Linked DNA regions of Homo sapiens: region 1 is linked to region 2. The links come from fine-mapping of genetic effects on gene expression. A gene starts in region 2. The other region holds a variant in brackets. All regions are shown on one strand. Distances are between the middles of the regions.

Region 1 (2,934 bases), 490 kb before region 2:
AAAAATTGCTGCAATGTTTGAGTATTCCTATGTTTTTCCAAATCAATTTCTCAAACATTTAGAGATTAAAATTTAGCAATTGGATGCATTTGTTAATAATGACAACTGACAGTCATTGATTAGTTATGGCATGCTTCAATATGACATTCCATTTAATATCCCCAATGTCCCTCTGGAGGAGACATCATTCTTACCCGAATTACATGAAGGTACGAAATGACGTTTAGGGAGATTAACCAACTTTCAAATAGCTGCACTTTACATGGCACTATTAGCCATTGTGGTGAACTACCTTGACCTCCCCACTGTGGGAGATTTACTAGGACTTTCTAGGGATTGAAAGCAAGGACTGCCTTAGTCAAAATTACAGAGCTGAAGCTTATTTTCAGATAGTCTCCTTTATCCCTTTCTTTGATCTCCAAATGCTCTTCTTTTCCTGTGAAAACTCTTTCCCTACTTGAAAATAGAAATCTACTAGGAGTTGGTTAAAACTAGAAATTGACACATACAGAGCACACAAACTGGAATTTTACAGAATAGTGTTTACCAAATGTTAATGGGTGAGCCTCAAACAGTGTTCTCTTTTTAAATGAGTTTGGGAAGTAATAGGTTTAAAAACACAAATAACTTTCTTTACTATAGGTTTTTTTTTAAGCACTGGGACTATCTATCTATCCATTGATCTATCATATTACCTACCAACATATTTATCTACCTATGATATCTATCAATCATCTATCATCTGTCTATTCTATCAATCTATTATCTAACTCCTCTGTGTTTTTTTCTTCACATGTAAAACATTTTCCACAGTCTTATTGTTTAGAACACTGTATCAGTCTGTTCTCATGCTGCTAATAAAGACATACCCAAGACTGAGTAATTTATAAAGGAAAGAGGTTTAGTTGACTCACATTCAGCACAGCTGGGGAAGCCTCAGGAAACTTACAATTATGGCAGAAGGGGAAGCAAACATGTCCTTCTTCACATGGCAGCAGCAAGGAGCAGTACCGCGCAAAAGGGGGGAAAAGCCCCTTATAAAACCATCAGATCTTGTAAGAACTCACTCACTATCACAAGGACAGCATGAGGTTAACCACCCCCATGATTAAATTACCTCCCACTGGGTCCCTCCTATGACACGTGAAGATTATGGAAACTACAATTCAAGATGAGCGTTAGGTGGGGACCCAGCTGAACCATATCAAACACAAATTTTGGAAATGCTTTTGTAAGGGCTATTTGATTCACAATTAGATGTTTTTTAAATCCTAACTTAATGGAAGGTGTATGTCCAGGGAAATTGCTGACCCTAGAAGATAATGTAGAACAAACCAATGTTATTTATTATCAGATTTCAAATTAACAAGTTGTTTGTGAATATTCTAGGCTACTTTGCCTCAGTATATCCTGCATCCAAAGGAAGCACACATTAAATTGAAAGAACATTGAAAAGTAGTATGGGTCTTTGTAACATTTTCTCCAGGAAGTGATGAGAGATTCACAACGTTCCCCCCGCCCCGCCCCCATTCATGTGTCCTCTCTTATCGAAGTTCCACTTTCCAGGCAGCTGTTCAGCTGTTTTCTTTT[C/T]CTCTTCTGCTGCCCATTGCTGCATGCTGGGTTTGTCCTTTCATTCCCCTTCTTCTTTCTTTGGCCAAGGTCCTCCAAAAGTCCCTGGAACTGGTGGCCTCTTTTGCGTAATGGTCAATTTAGCCTTTCTTTCAGTTTCCAAATTGCCTCTCTACTCTTGGGTCCTCCAAGAGTCCCTGGAACTGGTGGCCTCTTTTGAGTAATGGTCAATTTAGCCTTTCTTTCAGTTTCCAAATTGCCTCTCTACTCTTGACTCCTGCCCCAGCATAACAAACAATCTCTTAGAGAATAAAAATTGCAAATACTTTTGATATATTTTAAATCCTTCCTATGTAAGAAAAACCTGAATTAAATGGGTGCTAACAAATGTTACAATCCTGTGAATGTCATGCATTTTTTTCAGATCTTTAAAAATTGATATACTGTATTTAATAGAAATAAGAATACTCATAGTTTATCTACTGTTAAAGCAAACTAAATATGGCCTGAGAAGGACTCTATATTTCCATATTTGAGTCCTTGTGGGCAAACCATAACCTAACTTAGTCGGTAGAAAAGACTGAAAAGCCTAACTTAGGTGTATGTGTCTATAACAATAGCTGAGTCTTGGCCAATTCCTGTAGTCATACTTCAACCACTCATACACTGCTGAGCATTCAAACTGTGTTCAAATAAGGCAAACATCAACGTGTTACCAATTCAGCTGTTTCTGTACCTCACTTCCATTTTCTGTACATCATTTTCCTTTTTCTGTTCATAAATCTTCTTCCACCTTATGGCTGTGCTGGAGTCTTCGAGCCTGCCGGATTCATGAATTGTTCATTGCTCAATTAAACTCTTTTAAATTTAATTCGGTTGAAGTTTTTCATTTATCACTACTAATCATTTTATGTATCACAGAGAAAGAAAATGCTGCCAATTTCTCCACATCCTCTCCAGCACCTGTTTTTTCCTGACTTTTTAATGATCGCCATTCTAACTGGTGTGAGATGGTATCTCATTGTGGTTTTGCTTTTACACTGTTGGTAGGACTGTAAACTAGTTCAACCATTGTGGAAGTCAGTGTGGCAATTCCTCAGGGATCTAGAACTAGAAATACCATTTGACCCAGCAATCCCATTACTGGGTATATACCCAAAGGATTATAAATCATGCTCTATAAAGACACATGCACACGTATGTTTATTGCGGCACTATTCACAATAGCAAAGACTTGGAACCAACCCAAATGTCCAACAATGATAGACTGGATTAAGAAAATGTGGCACATATACACCATGGAATACTATGCAGCCATAAAAATGATGAGTTCATGTCCTTTGTAGGGACATGGATGAAGCTGGA
Region 2 (2,934 bases):
TTAATAAAACAATAATGGTAACTTTCAACTGCAAAATGAGATCTTGAAATCTTAAGATGAAATTAAGATTGTTAAACTAACAGTGATGGAAAATAGCTGCCTTTTAAGTCCTAATTCAGTATTTATCTTAAGAAACACAATATATAAGTAAAATTTTCCTGCATTGATTACTTTGTATGAGTAAACAATGTTTTGTGTGCCAAAGTTTAACAAAATAATTATGTTATAATTTTTTTGCATAAAAGTTCCCAGAAAGTTGTTTTTTGTTTTTTGAGATGGAGTCTCGCTCTGTCGCCCAGGCTGGAGTGCAGTGGCGCGATCTCGGCTCACTGCAAGCTCCGCCTCCCGGGTTCACGCCATTCTCTTGCCTCAGTCTCCTGAAAGTTTTTTTATAGTATAGATTTGTAAAGAATCATCATTAACACACATATACTTGTATATAATTTCTAAGACCACAAGGCATAAATTCACATTTGTATATAATTTTCAAGACCATGTGAAATGGAGACCTTTTCATATAAAGCATATTCAGACAACTTAATGTTCATGTTGGCTTTTTAAAAAGTGAATGACTATTAGAGCAGTTGGACTAAAATGATTCAGACAAGGCCAAAAAAAAGACTAAATCTTGTTATACATTGCTTCTATTCAACAGAAAATTATTCAAAAATAAGCTATCTTTTACAGAAAGCATGGATTTAAAATAAAATTAATAGTCAAAATTATTTTAATTTTTTATAGATAGAAGTAAATATCGAGATAAAAAATCTTATGATAACTTCAGTTAGAATTCTGAATCAAATTACATATGAAAGTAACTTGCCTCTGTGGGATAATACGTTGTTTCAAAATTAGCATGGATTTAAGATTTCATAATATTAACTCTGTTTAATAGTTATATTGAAGACCCACTAATTAAATGGATTCTTAGGTATGCTCAAATCCAAATCTTTAATCTTCAGTTTTCTTTATTTGCTTCAGAAGCATAGCAAATAATTGCATTAAAAAAATCTTGTTATCATAGTAATGTTTAATAATCCCAGAAATAAAATTTAAATATTCTATAAATGTTTCTTTCAAAAAATGGGCATAAAATAGTAAGAAAGTAGTAAGAATAAAAACAAATTAGAACAACATTTTCTGTTAAAAACGTCAAAAAACACAAATGAAATTTTATAAATCAAGTTTCAAAAGAGTGAAAAGCTTTACAGAAATAAGCATTATACTCACATAGTCTCCACAAAACATTTTGATGGTAATTGTTAACCTCAGGGATGAAAATATTTGATCGATTGCATAAACTTGTTTCACTGTGAAGCCAGAAAGAATTAAGGTTCACTGTTAAATCAAATGTAAATATGTTCACTGTTCACCTCAGACTCAGGCAAGAAAATGTAAAAGCAAATCTGGATACAGCATGACTTGAGATACTGTATTTATACTTAGTTATCAGTCATAGGTGAGTAGGCAGAATTATTGCACAAAATAAGTAGAACCATTAACCTAATCCCCAGTTGTATGTTGATTTAAGACACATAAAGTAGCCAACTAATGAAAGAAATGTAATCTTTTGAAAAAGCTGATGACTTATGGAAAGCTAAGTTGATTACCCATAAAGTTAATCATTTATTTTCTGCTTAATTGTTGTTAACATGGAAACTCTTTCAGGTGCTCCAGCCCTAGTTTCCTATCTTAAATTGCTAGGTTCTATGTGTATCCATACAATTTTAAAAGAATATTTCAACTACTGTTTATCTGCTCTTATATTAAAAAATAATGTATTTAGGGGCTGGGCCTGGTGGCTCATGCCTCTAATCCCAGCACTTTGGGAGGCTAAGGCAGGCAGATCACTTGAGGTCAGGAATTCGAGACCAGGCTGCCCAACATGGCGAAACCCCGTCTCTACTAAAAATACACAAATTAAAAAAAAATTATTTTAAATATATTTAGAAAAGAATTCATTATCCACCAATAAAAGTCTTTGGAGAAATATATTCACCATCATTTTTGCACTTAATTTTCCTATATTTATATATATGTAATTTTAATATTAACTATTGCATTTTAAGGAAATAAATTTTAGAAAAACCTGTAAAGTTCAATATAGTGTTGGAAACTATCTAGATACATTCATATATGATTCCAAAAATAACAAAATGAATCTGTATTATATTATTTTACTGCTACTTGCTATTTATTGAACAATATAGTGTTCATTTATAAAAATTTTAAAATACTTTGAATAAGAATTAGGAGCAAATAATCCTTTATTGAAAGAACCAAATACTAACAAGACAAGTGTCAACTGATCAGCATCCATAGGTCTAGAACTACCCAAAATAATTCTGATGTTAAAATATGAGTAAAAGCCATGAAGCAGTATGTATTTATGTAATACACACACACACACACACACAAACACAAATATATATATATATAATGAGCAACTATATATATATATTCTTCAGCATTCAATTTATAATATTATCTGATTACCTTACCAGTATACCTGGTACTATGAGAGATATATGGAACCATGCTGCTTGGCTCAAAAACATTAAAATCTAGTAGGTCCTACTATGTATGTGTATGTGTCTGTGTATGAATCAGGGTCTTGTGTTTTTGCTATGTAGACAGCATATAGCAATTATAAAATTGTATAATTTATATTGTATAATTGCTATAATTGTATAATTTATATTGTATAATTGCTATATGTAGACAGCATATAGCAATTATAAAATAATAGATATACTTATTAAAACTATAGGATTCAGAATTAGAAACAAAAGAAGAATTTTCAACTAAAATTGTTTTTTAATTAGAAACAATAGAAGAGTTTTCAACTACAATGATTTTTTATGATTATTTTAGTAAGTTGCAGGTCTTATGGCTTTTATTAGAGACTAAATATGTGAATATGAACAAAATTTG

Alleles and levels. Alleles are on the strand shown, and positions count from the first base shown. SD is a standard deviation of normalised expression in the study named.
As copies of T replace C in region 1, the expression in pancreatic islets of the gene that starts at base 1,412 in region 2 goes up (large effect, 1.0 SD a copy in PISA).

Evidence for each region. PIP is the estimated chance that this variant, and not a neighbour inherited with it, causes the effect.
Region 1: its variant is fine-mapped to the expression of ANXA10 in pancreatic islets (PISA, PIP 0.93).

What each region holds. Positions count from the first base shown.
Region 1 is chr4:168,576,530-168,579,463 of GRCh38, reverse strand. All of the region lies in intron 2 of PALLD (palladin, cytoskeletal associated protein), which reads right to left. The region is part of intron 1 of LOC124900807 (a long non-coding RNA gene); the gene reads left to right. Among named protein-coding and RNA genes, the nearest start is that of PALLD-AS1, 71 kb to the left of the region's middle. The variant C/T (reference allele first, on the strand shown) is at 1,591.
Region 2 is chr4:168,091,015-168,093,948 of GRCh38, reverse strand. It overlaps ANXA10 (annexin A10), which reads right to left and starts at 1,412. Exons shown (of 12, transcript NM_007193.5): 1 at 1,231-1,412. The coding sequence starts at 1,248. LOC124900170 (a long non-coding RNA gene) reads right to left here and starts at 1,212. Exons shown (of 2, transcript XR_007058357.1): 1 at 1-1,212.